Regions from separate parts of the Homo sapiens genome. Here region 2 is linked to region 1. Evidence: fine-mapped expression QTL. A gene starts in region 1. The other region holds a variant in brackets. All regions are shown on one strand. Distances are from middle to middle.

Region 1 (8,326 bases):
GCTAGGCACAAGACGGCTTGTGAGGATACCAGACCCCCATTTACGTGATCAACTGAATCATACGGTTACAAGCTGTCTTAAAAATAATCACTAATAAAACCGGCAGAGCCTTGACTATTCTGGCCCAGCAAGAAACTCAGATGAGAAATGCTACCTATCAAAATAGATTAGCTCTTGACTACTTGCTAGCAGCTGAAGGAGAGGTCTGTAGGAAATTTAACCTTTCTAATTGCTGCCTACATATAGATAATCAAGGGCAAGTAGTTGAAGACACAGTTAAGAGATATGACAAAACTGGCACATGTGCCTGTGCAAGTGTGGCATGGATTTGATCCTGGGGCCATGTTTAGAAAATGGTTCCCAGCGCTAAGAGAATTTAAAACTCTAATAATAAGAGTTATAATAGTAATAGGAACCTGCTTACTGCTCCCTTGTTTGCTACCTATACTTCTTCAAATGATAAAAAGCTTCATCGCTACCTTAGTTCACCAAAAAGGTTCAGCACAAGTGTACTATATGAATCACTATCGATCTGTCTTGCAAGAAGACACAGGTAGTAAAAATGAAAGTGAGAACTCCCACTATTGAGTGAGAATCTCAAAGGAGGGGAATAAGGGAGGAGACCACCCCTCATATTGTCTTATGCCCAATTTCTGCCTCCAAAGAAAGAAAAAGTAAAAACTAAAAGGCAGAAATGAAATCCACAAGCAGACAGCCCGGAGCCGCACCCTAGCGCTGGTAGTTAAAGATCGACCCCTGACCTAATCGGTTATGTTATCTATAGATTACAGACATTGTACAGAAAAGCACTGTGAAAATCCCTATTCTGTTTTGTTCCGATCTAATTACTGGTGCATGCAGCCCCCAGTCACGTACCCACTGTTTGCTCAATCGATCACGACCCTCTCAGGTGCACCCCCTTAGAGTTGTGAGCCCTTAAAAAGGACAGGAATTGCTCACTCGGGGAGCTCAGCTCTTGAGACAGCAGTCTTGCTGATGCCCCCGGCTGAATAAACCCCTTCCTTCTTTAACTCAGTGTCTGAGGAGTTTTGTCTGTGGCTCGTCCTGCTACACCACCATGTCATACATGTCCCAAGATATGTGCAACCCATCCCCCACTGCAAAGTGGCAGGGCTATTACAAGCACTCTCATTGGGAGGAAATATCCCTTCAAATAGCAGAGCTCCCAGTTATTGCCCCAGGAGGGAAAGGTGCAAGTGACTTTAACTGATGGAATTTGAGATTCAAGATTTACCTTAAGCTATCCAACCTCGTACCTGGTTTCAGGCTGATAAGTGGAGTTAAATGGAAGTCCTCCAAACTCTGGTCTTGCAATTAGTATGGATCAAAGGAGGTGATGACTAACAGAATCTCATTTTTAGAGTCAAGAAAAACTCTTAGCCAGTATGAGTACTTAACTCCTTTAGGAGGCCAATTGGCCTGAGCCCAGCCCTCAGGTACGTGTGGTTAAATCATCAACACATGAGAAATCATCTTATTTATATAGATCTCCAAATAAATTGCTGCCATAAACATTTATTTTAGGGAACCAGGGTGGGTCTAAACGGATCAGTCTCATTCAGCTGTACCCTCACTGTCAGGAATCTGTTCTGGACACCCGTCCCTCCTGCCCTTCTTGGTGAAAATGAAGTGAGGTTGCCCCACCCTGGTTCCTGCAGAGGCCCCTTTCTTTACACCATCTAATCCTAGTCCCTACCCTTTCATCTCAATTCCTAATTTATAAATACCAAAGGTTCCAAAATTCCTGATGAAATTTCTCCAAAATGGTGGAACCAAAACTGCGCACAACATTTCCATCCAGGTCTGGCCAAAAATGAGGAGATTTGGAGATTATTTTAAGCTATCTCAAAATTTCTGTTGCTTATCCATATACAACTACAAAATCAATTCAGCCTGTATTTATTGCGGTGCGGAAAGAGCAGAAGCAGGAGTGGAGATCCCAGCTGAGTAAGTATGCAGGTGAGATCCACTCTGACCTCCAGATCCCTTTCTGTTGGACACATATAACCAGTCCACGGACACCCCCATCATCCCTTTGTGTAATCTGGCTTCCCCTTAATTGCACCACCGGAGGCTTTACTCAGTCCCATCTGACTGTATGTTTGTGGGAAACAACCTCTCTACACCATGATCCCACCCTGACCAGAAGGGGCCTTGATGCAGTCTCTGCAGTCTCCCACATCCTCACCGCAGCAGCTTTGGCCTCTCAGGAGGTATCTTCCATTGTTACTTCTGCCTAGGCAGAACGGGCAAAAGAGCCCGAGTGCGGATTGAACCATTCCAGGTCCTCCTGGACCTGTGAGGGAGTGGAAAGCATTTCCGACCCCATGGGAAAGGTGCTCTCATCCTAACAGCTGCCAACACCCTATCTTCTCACCCGCTCCCCATAACTTGCCTGGTGAGTGGACCTGCTTAGACCTTACTGAACCGTGAGAGCTGTGACCTTCCTGGGGCCATTTCCAGACCAGGGAAGCCAATCTGAGCACGCGGGTTGGTTGCCAGCCTGGGGAAGCCGCCCGCTGAGAGGGAATTCTAAACATAACTGCGAGCGGCACAGCCAGGTAGCAGAGCCCCCCGCCCCCGTTGGCGGGAGAAGAAAGCCTGGGGAAGGAGAACATCCCTTAGGCCACCCACCCCAGGACGAGGGGGCTCGGACGAGACACAGTCTGTCCCCCAAAGCGCGGGGGGTCCCCCTGGCACCTCCAAGCCCATCCCATTGACGAAGTAACCGCCCGCTGGAGGCCGAAAAAGCGTTCCTCGAGATGATCTTTTTCAATCATCGAGGACAATTCTCTCGCTTATAACTCTGCCTGGAGTTGTCCGAGTAAGCGGTAAGCAGGTACTTCCACTGTCCCATTACTTAGTCCGATGAAGGCGTGTGAACACACACACACACACTCGCACGCACACACACACGCTCACACACACACACGCTCACACACACACTCGCACACACACGCCCAGCACGCGTCGCCCGGGGATGAGATCGGAGCGCGGCACAGGAGGGAGCCCGGGGCTCCCGGAGCCTCCTGGCTCCGGCAGACAGAAGCGGGTGCCCAGCCGAAGGTGCGCCAGGCGCGGCTCCGGCCCGGAAGACCCCGCGGACTCCGCTCACCTTAATGTTGCCGAAGACCGAGCGGGCACAGCGGCCGGCTCGGCTAGTAGAGGTGTCGCTGCCCTGGGACGCGCCGAGCTTGGGCAGGAGCCCCATGGCTGCGGGCGGCTGGCCGGGCGCGGAGTGGCGCGGGGTCGGGGCGCCTCGGGCTGGAGCGGCCGGGCGGGTGAGAGGCGACCGCGGCGGCAGTGGCCGGAGGAGATTCGCGGAGCGGAGACTGAGCCAGCGAGTGCGCGCCTAGAAGTTTTTATAAGTGGCCGCCGCCGATGATGAAACGCGCTCTCCCTCCTCCCTCTTTTCCTCGGGTGTCAAAGGCGCTACGAGCCCCCGCCCCGCCGCCGCCGCCGCCGCCGCCCCCTCAGACAGGTGTGACGCCGCAGCGACCCGCGAGGCTTGACTGCCCCGAGAAGATCCCGCCTGCCGGGAGGCGGAGAGGGAGGGAAGGAGGTGGCGGGCCCGGGGAGGGGAGGTGAGGGCTGTGCGGGGGCAGGAGGTTGCAAGGGGGTGGAGGTTCCTGGGGACTGGCGAAGAGAGGGTGGGCGAAGCGAAGGTGGGTGAGTGGAGGGGATGGAGAAAGAGGTTGGCAGGGCTGGGGGGCAGGAAGGCTGGGATATGAGGGTGCCCGAGGCGGGCGCTGGAGGGGCCAACGTGAGCCGGGGGTGGAGGGGAGCCCCAGCACCCCTCCCGACGTTCTTGGGGAGATTTACGGAGCCAGTCTCTGCTTGTTTGCACTCGCAGAAAACCTGGGCCCTCAGTTCCGGTGATGGCTCTGAGACTCGCTGCAGCTCTGTTTGTGTTGAGGACTGATTTATATTTAAACTGCTCTTTGCGCTGGAGAGGGGGCTGGGTAACAAGGTGAAAAGGTGGGGGCTGGGCCCGAAGTCTCTGGACCTGAGCCAAGGTAAACTGCAGGGGCTGTCAAGTGTCAGCATGGCTGGGTCTGGCCTGGGGTGCTGGGGGGAGGGGTAGAGGGGGTGGGGGGGGTGTGGACAAACAGGACGCACCCCACTGACCTCCTTCTCAGTGCTGGAATGAATAGTGGGTTTATTTTTTCCCCAAGATTTTCTACTAACAGGATTCCAAGCGCCGAGAAGAGACAGTGAGGCTTCTCAAGGGAAGGATAAGAAGGTTCTTCCAAAAGCAGCTGCAGTGAGGAATCCAGCTCTGGAGGCATTTTTCCAGCTCCCTCACTTCTGTAGTCCCGTGCAGAGGGAACCTCTCCAAGCCCACCCCAAACCCAGGAAAAGATGCCGTCAATATCCAGGAGGCTTTGGCTAAGACAAAGGCCACAGGATAGATAGACCACATAGGCTTCTTATTCTACCCAAGACCTGATACCTTTCTGGGCCTGGTCTGGCCTGGCCTGGGCTTGGGGGCTTCTATCCACCTGCGACCCAAGTTCCCTGGACACGGCAGCATTCCAAAGATGTTGAACAGTGGGCAGCCTCTGGCCTCTTCACTCAGCCACAGAGCGAGGTACATCCTGACAGGCTTTCCACAGCACTGTAGCAGCCCCAGCCCCAGCCCCAGAGGAGGCATGAATTCCAGGTCCCATCTGTCCACTGGGAGAACATGGCACACAAGGACAGGTACCAGCATGGAGCACTTGGTGTGTGCTGGGCATACCAGGCCCTCTGCTGAGCACCCACATGCATGATTTCATGAAGCCCCAACGTTAGCCCTACAGGTATAGGTACTGATGGAGTCTGGACTCCACAAACAAGGATGCTAGAGCAGTCGGCTAAGAAAGCTGTCTGAAAGCCACACAGCTAGCAAGTGGTGGAGCTGGACCCTGAATTCAGCCTTGTCTGACTCCTAAGCCCAGACTTGAAGCACTATGCCTTCTGATAAGTTGTCTAGTCCAACAGCCCCATTTTGCAAGTTGAACCAAACAGGGACCAGAAAACCCCCAGGCCAAGGTCACAGACACCTTAGGGCTACCATGCCTGGAGCTTCTTTCTCAAACCCTGAGGCCTCACTGTGATCCTCTGGTAGAACCCCTGGGAGGATCAGCCTCTCCAGCCCTCACCTAGTCCTGTTCCATTAACCTGGCCCTCTGCCTCCCGTCAGCGCCAGCATCATCTCCAAAGGAAAAGCCTATTCAGAAATGCTCACAGATGCTTATCTTCCTTCATTGACCTTTACTGGGTGGAGTTCAGCTAAATGTAATGGAGAGCCAACCAAAATGACTTAAATGAGATTTATTTGTCTCTCAATAATTAGAAGTCTGCTAGTAGGTAGTCCAGGGGTCATGACCTAGGCCCTTCAAGATTCCTTAGCCTGTGGTTCCCATCCCTGTGGCTGGCTCATTGTCACAAGATGGCTGCTCCATCTCCAGCCTCCTCTCCTAATTCCAGGAAAGATGTGGAAGACAGGAAACAGGAAGGGGCCATGCTTACATCAAGGGAGCAAATCTCTCCCTTGCGTGCACAGTTGCTTTTACTTAAGTCTTCTTGGCCAAACCTGGGTCACATAGCTACCCCCTGCAAAGGATGCTAAGAAGTGTAATTAACACTATTGCTGTCCTCTGAACAAAATTGGGGTTTTATTAGGGAAAAAGGGAGAAATAATATTGTGTTTTACATTTTCAACACCTACACATGGAGTAACCCATTTCCTTTCAAGAGCACTCCTAGAGTCGGTCTCCCAGACTTTCCATCCTTAAATTTCAGTAAATATTTCCTAGCACTGAAAAAATACAAAAAATAGGCTGGGCACGGTGGCTCATGCCTCTAATCCCAGCACTTGAGGAGGCTGAGGCGGGCGGATCACTTGAGGTCAGGAGATTGAGACCATCCCGGCCAACATGGTGAAACCCCTTCTCTACTAAAAATACAAAATTAGCCAGGCATGGTGGCAGGTGTCTGTAGTCCCAGCTGCTTGGGAGGCTGAAGCAGGAGAATTGCTTGAACCTGGGAGGCAGAGGCTGCAGTGAGCCAAGGTCGTGCCAGTGCACTCCAGCCTGGGCTACAGAGCAAGACTCTGTCTCAAATAAATAAATAAATAAATAAATAAATAAATAAATAAATAAATAAATTTTAAAAAAAGCTAAACCACAAGAACATCTCCTGACCTCAAAGACTCTATGGTCTCAGGGTGGGAAACAAGAAGAGAAAGTGTGGCTGTGATGTAGGAAGAAAGCTATTGTGCACAGCTGCTATGGGAGCATAGAAGTGGAGCCCTAATGCACCTTGGACAGCAGGAAGACTTCTAGGAGGAGGCGACTGTCAAGCTGAGCCCTAAGAACTAGTAGGATTGAGAGGATTAGGGTAAAGAGGGTAAACCTACTCCATGGTTTCAGTCTGGCTGGAGCTCAAGACCAAGCGCAGTGGGTATGTGTGTGTGAAGCAAAGAGGCTGGGAGTTTAGGTTTTCTCCCCAGCACAATGGGGAGCCGTTAAAGGCTTCTAACCAAGGGTGACCTGGGCTAATTTGCATTTCACATGGACCTCTCTGGCAGCCAGAGTGGAATTAGGTAGTCTGTGGAAGGAATCCCAGGAGCTATGATAAAAGCTGGCATGGCAGCAGTGGGATGGTGGTAGGAAGGAGAGAAAAGCTTAAGAAATGTCAAAGCGAGGTGGCACCCACATATCAGTGAGAGGAGAGATGTTAGTGATGACTCCCAGGATCTGGCTTGGGCAACTAGCGTTGGTGATGCCCACTCCTGACAGAGGGGGCCCAGAAGGAGCAGTCACTATTGAAGGAAGCCAGTGAGTATCCTGGTCACATTTGAAATTCAAATTTCCCAGACTATACCCAAGTAAAGATCTTCAGGAGTCAGATGGGTATATGGGTCCAGCACTCAGGGTGGACACTGGGCTAGAGATATGGGCTTGGAAATCCCACGTGGAGGTGGTGGTTAAGCCTCAAGAAGGGATGAGTCTCCTAGGGAGACTGTGTTGATGAGAAGTAGGTCCAGGATGGGCCACAGCAATATCAAGGTGGCACAAGGGACGGAGCCAGAGTGGAGGAAAGTAAACCAGGGGAGGAGGTGTTGATAGAGCTGAGGGTACTCTTTCAAAATGGAGGAGGGCGGGCACATGGCCAGGCTGCTGGGGAGGCAAGAGAAGGCCTGAGGAGTGGCCACCAGGCTGGCAACGCTGGCATTGAGGAACTTGGCAAGAGTGTCTGCAGTGGGTGATGTGGGCAGGAGGAACTGGATAGGAGAAAATGCAAATAGAACCCATCGACAACTTTCTCAAGGTTGCGGAGGGAAGGAAAAAGACAGGGAGCAGCTGAGCAGCTACGGGCTCTCCTGTCTGCCTGAATTGTCTCCAGCTGTCTTGGGCCTCCTCCTGGGGCAGTTAAATTCATTCCCACCTCTGGTTTTTGCTCATGCTATTCCCCTGCCTGCACTGCCAGCCTCACAATGCTTGGATTCTACTCTTCAAGGAGTGGTTCACATTATTATTACACGAACTTGTAGTCAGACAAAATTGCTGACTACCTTCGATAGCTTGCTTAACCCATTGGATCTGCGGTGACTTCTCTTCGTGATGAGCTGTTATGAAGTGCATATGAGATGATGCATGGAATGCCTGGAGCATAGTGAGGTCTCAATGCTGGGAAGCTGCTCTTGCTGTGGGGGTTGGTGGTTTGATGTTAGTAAACTGTGCTCTAGGTCTCTTCCTTCAACTCAGCTGTGGGCTCTTCAAGGGCAAAGGTTCTGTGTCAACTCTCTTTATATCCCCCATTTGACCTAACATATCCCATTGCTCAAAAATGTTTATTAAGTGCTATTAAGCAGAAATAAATTCTAAAAGGGCCCTCGTGACTGGAAAAGGCCTCATTGCTCCTAGACCTCCATGCCATTGTTCTCTCTGCCCAAACCCCGCTCCTTCTGCCCCCTGAAGGCCTCTGGGTTGTCTCTGGGTCTCAGCCTTGTCTCTTCTCACCACTGGCTGGCCATGAACTTGGTGGGCCACACTGCCCACTCCTGCAGCAGCTGATGAAGCTTCCTTGGCAATTTAGATACCCAAGTGTGATCATGGATTAACTCTCAACAGTGACTGCCTCTCCTGAGTCAGAGGCCATGTTTGCAGCAAGTGCTCCACTGCTTTGTCACTGTCACTGGTGGGGCAGCCTGTTCCTCTGCAAGTCACCCTGACCACTATTTTATATTTTAACAGTGCCAACAGTCTGTGCCAGGTTCTAATACAAGGTTGATTCTTTTTTGTTTTGTTTTGTTTTG
Region 2 (8,326 bases), 95 kb before region 1:
ACTCTTAGTTGCAGCCATCCAAAAAATCAGATTCACAGGCATCTCTTCACCTTGTTATCCTTCACTCACCTTTGAACATACCAAAGGCCTATCGAGCCTGTAAATTTCTCAGTGGCCTAAGCACAAATGGGCATACCCCAGGCTCTATTGCACTGACAGCCCACCTCACAGGATTTGGGAACTACCCACATCAATCTCATGAGGGGGCCGTTAAAAGAGCCATTCCTGGGTCCCCATTAGACCCACAGAAGTAGACGCTGGGGCTGGGTGGAGGGTGTTGGGAATTTGCATCCTCTGTGAGTGTCACACACTCAAGAAAGTTTGTTAAGCTTTGCTCTAGAAGTGAAATGAAAGTGACACTATTATATTCCCTGCTGACAGCTGAAAAGAAAGATTTTCTTGGGAGTAGTAGTACTGGTTGTGACCATGTGATCAATTTGATTATGATATTAATTCTGTTTTGTGCCATGGACATAGCTGTTTGCGTCCAGCTCCGCTTCTGGATATAAACCCAAGAGCAGTGATGCGGCCTTCTCAGAGCCCAGCAGAACTTCACTGAAGGAATAAGCAGTGTCTGGTACTTGCCTGATACCAGGCTAATGGGTTGACAGTTGCATTACCTCTAATCTCCATGGCCATGGGCCCCTGGGGTCTATGTCATGAGCACTTCCTCTGTTTACAAGATGCAGGTGCCGGCAGGGCGCAGTGGCTCATGCCTGTAATCCCAACACTTTGGGAGGCTGAGGCGGGAGGATCACTTGAGGTCAGGAGTTTGAGACCAGCCTGGCCAACATGGTGAAACCCTGTCTCTACTAAAAGTACAAAAATTAGCCAGGTGTGGTGGCGCAGGCCTGTAATCCCAGTTACTCTGGAGGCTGAGGCAGGAGAATCGCTTGAACCAAGGAGGCAGAGGTTGCAGTGAGCCAAGATTGTGCCACTGCACTCCAGCCTGGGTGACAGAGCAAGACTCCATCTCAAAAATAAAATACAAATAAAAATAAAATAAAATTAAAAAGTGCAGGTGCTGTCTGTTCTCTGACAGATGTATATGACAACATAAATTCATGACCAAGTTACCTCAATAGCAAAATTAGAATATTTTAATAGTAATATAATAGAATAAAGGTTTGGGAGTGCAACCAATCTTCTAGAACCTGAAGGTTGGCATTCATTGTTCATAAACTCAGCTGAAGGCAGTGCCTTCCAAATGTGGTTAAATTGCCATGGGAAAGACCAGGGTTAGTTGCAGGGCATCATTTTCCAAGCAGAACCATTTCAAATGCTAAAACTGGCCCCTGAGGTTACATTGAGCCTCCCTTCCTGAGTGAGATGTTTGGAAATGAGGTGGCTTTGGAAATAAGCTTGTCTGTAACAGTGGTTTCCACAAAGACTTCAGTCTCATGGCATTGGACTTTGTTTGGACATTGACATAAATATTTTGGCATATCACCATATGAGGCTTTTCCAGAGGTGGCTTCCAGTATGCTTCTGGAGGGGGTCTTCCAAGAAGGGTGGCACTTAAGGGTCATGAATGGCCATGACCCATGCCCAGCTGTTCCAGAGGACATGGGGAGACAGAGCTGTCTGGCAAAGGGCCAGGTGCAGAGTCAGTCTGGGGGCCATGGATGGCATGGATAGTCAGGTCAGGATCCTTCATGCCAATCTGTGGCTTCTTGCTGTCCCCACCTCTCCTCCTGCTCTCACCAACTCCCACACCCCCAGTCCCACACTGCCCACCGAGCACACCCTGGGAGAAGGCCCTAATGTAAATGGAGGGAGGTGAGGTAAGAGCTGAGGGAAGCTCCATGGAGAACCCTGATTAGCATTGCTTTGCACAAAGTCGGTCTCCAATAAATATATTTGTTGATGAATGACCTCCTTCGTTGGCTTCTGTCTCTCAACATCTATCACGTAGCAGCTGTGTCTCTCAACCCAGGCACCCACCTCTCTGGAGGCAGTGAGAAGAGGCTGAGAAAATGGGAATGGTATGAGCATGTCTGAAACCAGGAAAGCCAACCTGACTGGCTGTTTTGTGGGCCGCAGCTTGCCATCCAGCTTGGTGACAGTGGACATCCACTCTGCTTCATCACTTGCTTTGCTGACATCTCTTCTGCCTCTCTACTCCTCGGAATACGGGCTGAAGTCCAGACAGGGAAGTGCATGTGAAGCCACCTCATCTGCTGCCAGGGAGATGTGGGAGGTTCTTCCCATTACTCTGAGATGAGGGGGTCTCGTCCCCACATTGAAGGGGTGGGAGGTTGGGCATCAGGACCTTTTCATAGGCCTTCCTTGGGTCTTCACTGTGTTGTAGCTTCCTCAGTTTGAAACGTACCCCAGAAAGACAGGGATAACATGTGAGGATCTAAGGACAGAAAGTCCAGGGTTCATATGGACAGCACTTAGATGACCCATCCTTGGGGTTTCTCAGTCCCTGCTCTGGTGCCTGCATGCAGGTAATGGGCAGAGACTGTACTTCCCAACATGGCAGCATCCAGAATGGCCTCTAGGTACAGGAAGTGAGGGTCTGAGGGGGAGGGAGCCAGCCCCTCCCGTAGTCTGTGCTGATGCCAAACCCAGGTGTGAAGGGGGTTACAGCCAGTCTCCCCAGTCTCCCAGTGGCTCTGGCTATTAATAACTCAGCCACTTCCTTCTTCCTTTCACCCCTGCCACTCTGCAGGGTGTGGGCAGTCAGCGGGAGAGTGGAGCTGCCTGGCAAGAAGGGCAGATACCCTTTTTCTCTCTCTGTTTAGGATTCCCCCCAGGGCTGGTGAGGGGCCTGGCTGCCTCAGTGGGCATCCTCAATGGAGGACTCAACACTGAAGTGAGCCTGGGCATCTGGGGGCCTCTTCCAAGGGGCCAGGGAAGACTCAGCCCCCCAGTTCTGGCCCACACAGCCCGGGTACACAGTGGCCCTTAGGAACTGTGGGGAGGACTCTGGGAGGAAGAGGTAGGGAAGGCAAATGAGGACTGGGGTTTTCTTTCTTGTTTAAAAATACAAAAAGGAAATGACGTGTTAACATTAGTGAGTATAGGCAGGTGTGGAAGAGTCAAGGTCCACTCTCTGGAGCAGGGCAGTGGCCCAGGGTGGGGTCAGATGAGGCCTGCCGCCTTCTGCACGTTGTACTCCTTGTTCTTCTTCACCCTCCAGCTGATGAAGCAAAGCAGCAGCATGCCCAGCGCCTTGTAGCCCATCTGCAGGCCCAGGTACCTGTGGGCAGGAGGAGGCAGGACTGGTGAGGGAGGGGGCTCTGCAGCCCACATCCCAGGGCCAGGACCACTGGGAAGAACCACATCATTCCCACGCTGGCCCGCGGAAGGTGTGGGCACCATCCAGGTGAGGATCACTTTCCTCATTTCTTTGACCCAAAAGGGAACAAAGCTGTAGGGAAGCAGGCAGGGAGTAGGCATGGGACTCTTAATCCAGGGCTCATCATCCCTCCACTGGCTCTTTCCAGAGGGCCAGAGGTGACCCAGCTGCCCCAGCCACCCCCAGACGGTCCTGACCTCCAAGCAGAGCCAGAAGGAGAGAGGCATCTTCTCACTGCCCTCTTGGCCTGTCCCTTTTGTGGTCTTCTCTGCCACTCCCATACCATTTCCAGCCCCTGCCCAGTCCCCTCAAGCCCACCTTCCTGTGGTTTCTGGGCCATATGACAACGGCAGCAGGTGAGGTGGCTGGAAGGGGTGCAGAACCCAATAGCACTGCAGCTGGACTTGGCCCATTGAGGCAGGTTGGTCCCCCTGCCCTGGACCTCTGCCAGGAGCCATGATGTGGCCCCCCTCTGTCTCTGAGCAGCAGGAGGCTGCCCCCAATTTTTCCACAGCCATGGCCTCTTCCTTGGGCTCCAGCCATCCCCGCCCCTTCTTTCTGCTGCTGCCCCTTCCAAAGGCTTTCGGGTCAGGGAAGTCCCTGGGTCTGCTGCCCCTTCCAAGGGCTTTCGGGTCATGGAAGTCCCTGGACATCTCCCTGTGAGCCCTGAAATGCCTGTTATAGTAGCCCCTGCTCCCTGTCCATGGCAGGGCCGCAGAGGTGGCCCTTCATGTTCTCTTCCTTGGAAGCCTGACAGCCCCCACAGTAGCCACTGGGCATATGACTACTGTCATCTCAAGCCCAGGGCCTGGCTCTGGGACACACATACATGATGGGCCCTCACCTGTCTCGGAGAGCATCGTTGTCATAGTAGGCGCAGGCCCCTCGCCTCCCCAAGCACAGCGAGTTCCACCGGATGCAGGAGTGGTCAATGGTGAGGCCATAGAGGGCTGGAGATGGCAGCCAGGCTGGAAGAGGGTTCAGAAAGCCCTGGTCAGGTGGAACTGCAGGCAGAGGTGTCCAGCAGGGGTGTGGGAGCCAAGTCCCCGACACAGTTCACATACATGAGAACGGCTCTGCCGTACCCATAGGACTCACAGTGACTCTGGAAAGCAGAATAGCTTTCAGTGAAGCCTGAATTTCTCTTTCACCAGAAGGCTTAGAAGACAAAAGGGACCTGGGCCATTCTTTCAAGTCAGAGTAAGTCACAGGGATCACCTTGATGCC[G/A]GCTCAGACATCCAACATAGTTCTCCTGAGATCAGCTCAGAGTGGAGATACACGGGCCTCCACTGTGTGGCAGGAGGCTCTCCAGGCATCGACTTCTCAGGTCCTCACACTGGCCCCGAGGTGTGGGTGCCCACTTTTTAGTGAAGAGGAAGGGGTTCTTGGCTGGGACACTGTAACACAGCCAAGAGAAGTCAAGGCCAGACTTGGAACCCTGGTTTATGGAGGTTCGAATCCCATGTACTTCCACCACACCAAGCTGCCCTATTGGATTAGACAACACCCCTCTGCAGACCTCCCAATACCTGGCTGCTCAAAGCTTCTGCTCTGGGACCCCGAACTTCCCAGCAGCTGAGTGTTAAGATTTGGCTTGGCAGGGGCTATGCCTTCCTGGCTGTCTAATATTCCGGATGCCACACTACCTGTGGGTAGCGTACCACTAGCTACAGCTCTAGGCAGTTACTGGACTGCGGAGGGCTTGTCCAGGATTTACACCAAGGCTGGCCCATCCCATTCTCAGCACCACAGTGCTGACAACAGCCTCCCAGACTTTGTTTAGGGCCCTGTGAGCAGCTGCTTCCAGAAGAAAGACAGACAATGCTCCACTTGTGGCACTGCCCACAAGTGGGAAACTCTAAGAAGAAGCCTCTCTACTCAGATCCTGCTCACTCTCAAGTCTCCAGGTGAACAGGGGGATGAAAACTGGCCAGAGTGATATATGACACTTCCTTATGTAGAAGCAAAGTCCGGAAACATTGTCAACCCAATCCCAATGTGTAATTTAAAACCTGTAATAGGAAGTCCTTTTTTTTACCCAAGAGTGGATTGTGTTCTTGGGTGATAAATGGAACCCCTCCAGGCCTGGGTTTTCTCATTGTGGTCCCACATTGAGTTATCTGAGCTCAAATGGAAAAGCAAAAGCAGCGAGTGCTTCAAGCAGTGCGAGAGAGTCCGAGAGAGTCCTTGTTTTCAAGGTCATTTTCAAGGTTGCTGGAGGAAGCAGGAAAGGGCTCTTTAGAGCCTATCCTAGGTGCTGGATGGGCTGAGAGGAATGTGAGGTCTCTTTCCCAGCAGAAGTGTTAGAGAAAGTTAAGTTATAAATGAAAATAAGGAGCTCTGATGACAGCAGAGCCTCTGCTGGGAGGACAGGTAGATCCTGCCGCCCTGCTTCCTCTGTGTTTATAATGCAGGCAGCAGGAGCAGGGTCTGAAGGGGCTCTGCAGGGACTAGAGGAACAAGAAATCCCACTGAAAAAGCTGGTTCATTCCCATCATCCAAACACTTCTCCCAGCCTGGGACTGGATTGGGCTCAGCAAGGGCTCCCGCTCACCTGGCCCCAGTAGAGACATCACCAATACATCTCAAAATGGGGATGGAAGCCACTGCAGGGCGCGGTGTTGACCTGGCCCCTGGGTAATGAGGCACAGTGGGCTATACATTATTTCAGGATTTATAGTCAGAAACGACACCTTATAGTAACTGAAGTTCCTCTTGCTGGAGTCTCCATATTCCCCTCTGTAGTTTGCACCCTTAATTAACACATCCTCAGTTCAATTAGGTCCCTTTACTACTGTGTGCCTGTCATTACAAGGATCTCTCTATTGCTGCCTTGTGTTAAGTCTAGTGCACAGATATGTCAAGAAGGAACAGCCAGTGTGAGCAGTTCAGGAATGGGCCTGCATTGTGCCCCCAGCCCTCAGCCCAGGCACCCCGGGAGAGCACTCCTGCTGCCTCAAGCAGCTCGCTCTCCCCTGGGGCACTGCTGATCACTTGTGCACAGCTCCATTCCTCTGGTGGGCTCTGGACTGCTTGAGGGCAGGCAGGACTCACCAGCAGAGGACCCCACAGGGAAGAAACTTTTGCTAAATAGTTTTAGGAGGAGTGAATTTTGTAAAATGGAAAGGAAGCCAGGGCTGGGCTCAGCCGCTGCTCTGGCTTGGCAGGAATGCAAAGTTTTGTTCCTACAGTGAGTTTTGTGAGAAGGATTTAAAAATACCTGCCTTTAACACTCTATTAGGTATTCTCAGCTGTGTTCACTTTTCATTTTTCTTACATAACTTAGTTAGGAATGAATGCCATAGATGGAGTCTTTCCTAACCTCAAGCAATCTGGGAAACCGTCCACATGGATTTTGGCATCTGCTGTTGATTATGCACAGCTTCTCTTCGCCATGGAGATGAGATGGTGCTTCCTCCATCGCTACCCTGCACCCATAGCCTTCAGATGCCCCATCGCCTGGGGCCACTTCTTGGGAAGAGGGGTCTTAGACACTTACCCAGCAAGCGCATCAACAAGAACTGCACCCCGATGGCAAATGACTTTTCCTCCTGGTTCACCACACTGAAAAGACAGACAGGAAATCAGCAGTGGGAGGATTCAGGGCTGCACGATCCCTTGGGTAAGGGGCAGCCAGCCTCAGAGCAGGTCAGAACCAGCCCTGATGTGGCCTGACGAGCCCTCTGGTGACCGGGTTCACCTGGGCTGAATGCTCTAGTTCTTTACATCAGTGGCCTCAAAGCGTGGTCCCTGGATCATCAGCATCCCCTGGGAACTTGTTAGATATGCAGATTTTCAGGCCCACCCCAGACTTACTGAGTCGGAAAGTCTGGGGATGGGGCCCAGCAATCTGTATTTTACCTCCAGGAGATTCTGATGCATCACTGAGAACCACCAGTCTGTGTGATTTTCAGGGCTGCCCAGAGCCCCCTTCAAGAAGCAGAGGGCAGTAGAGGCTAGGAGTGGAGAGAAGGATGCTGTGGGTGTGTTGATAGCAGCAGGTCTGAACAACTCCCACAGAATGTCTTATAACAGTAAAAGACAGCCCTGCTGCAAAGTGTAATTAGGGCCCTTGGGCTGCAGGCTTCTGTGCACAGCTAAAAGAATTCCCTACCCCAGGCTAGCTCTGTGGGTGTGTGCATACAACTCCACCCTCAGAAAGGTCCCATGTTTGGCTTAATGCTCTGCTGCAGCTGTCTGGAAATTCTTAATTTCTGAGCCAGGGGCTTTACATTTTCATTTGCAATAGGTCCTGCAAATTAGGTAGCTGGTCCTGCCCCTAACCATCTTCCTTCAAGAGAGGAAAATGTGTTTGGCTGAGGAAGGAGATTCAGAGAGAGCAGGGGACGGCCCTGCCATCCCAGCTGGGGAGTGGAGAGAGGGAGGACACCTCCACACAAGGTGGGGAGCCAGCAGCTGGCCAGCAGAGGCACCTGATGAGTGACTTGACTCCAGGACTCTCTGTGCTCTGAGCACACACACTCCCGGTGGGTGCTTGTCAGGAAGAGCCTTCAGTGCTAGGGGACAGTGAGGAAGGGAGCTCAGAAGTAATCCCCAGGCCTCTACCTGTGGTTTGTTTCACCACCACCATCACAGTTCTGCTAGCAAACTGGAAAGGGACCTTTGCCCAGTCCCCCTGAGGGATGGCCCAGTGAGACAAATACTCATTGGGGCAGGGGAAGAGGCACCCCTTGGGACCCCCACAATGCAAAGTGTCTCAAATCCTGTTGTGTCTACAGATCCCTCCAGTGGTCCAGTTCATAATAGATACCTGCCTTGTCTTGGCCCTTGCCCTGGGCAGACTCCCCTAGATTCTCAATGAAACGGGACTTGGCCACCCCAATTTGGCTTTTGATTGAGATCTTGGGCCCCTTCTAGTCTCTGTCCCATGTGGCCCTGAATGAAAGCTGACCTTCTGACCTCTCTTTCTCCTTCCACGTTTTCAGCTAGCCTTCACTTCCAGCTTGTGTTCCCATGGCTAATTGGGGGCCAGGACTCATATAAATAATGCTTGGGTCA

Direction of the effects. Alleles are on the strand shown, and positions count from the first base shown. SD is a standard deviation of normalised expression in the study named.
For the expression in rectum of the gene that starts at base 3,355 in region 1, G is the low allele of the variant in region 2 and A is the other (moderate effect, 0.66 SD a copy in CEDAR).

What was found.
Region 2: its variant is fine-mapped to the expression of SLCO2A1 in rectum (CEDAR, PIP 0.95). The same link has a PIP of 0.9 or more in transverse colon.

The regions. Positions count from the first base shown.
Region 1 is chr3:134,026,571-134,034,896 of GRCh38, forward strand. SLCO2A1 (solute carrier organic anion transporter family member 2A1) reads right to left here and starts at 3,355. Exons shown (of 14, transcript NM_005630.3): 1 at 3,137-3,355. The coding sequence starts at 3,232. RefSeq lists an enhancer at 3,350-3,850.
Region 2 is chr3:133,931,623-133,939,948 of GRCh38, forward strand. SLCO2A1 (solute carrier organic anion transporter family member 2A1) reads right to left here. Exons shown (of 14, transcript NM_005630.3): 12 at 6,807-6,871; 13 at 4,152-4,275; 14 at 1,079-3,208. The coding sequence ends at 3,091. Among named protein-coding and RNA genes, the nearest start is that of C3orf36, 6.0 kb to the left of the region's middle. The variant G/A (reference allele first, on the strand shown) is at 4,535.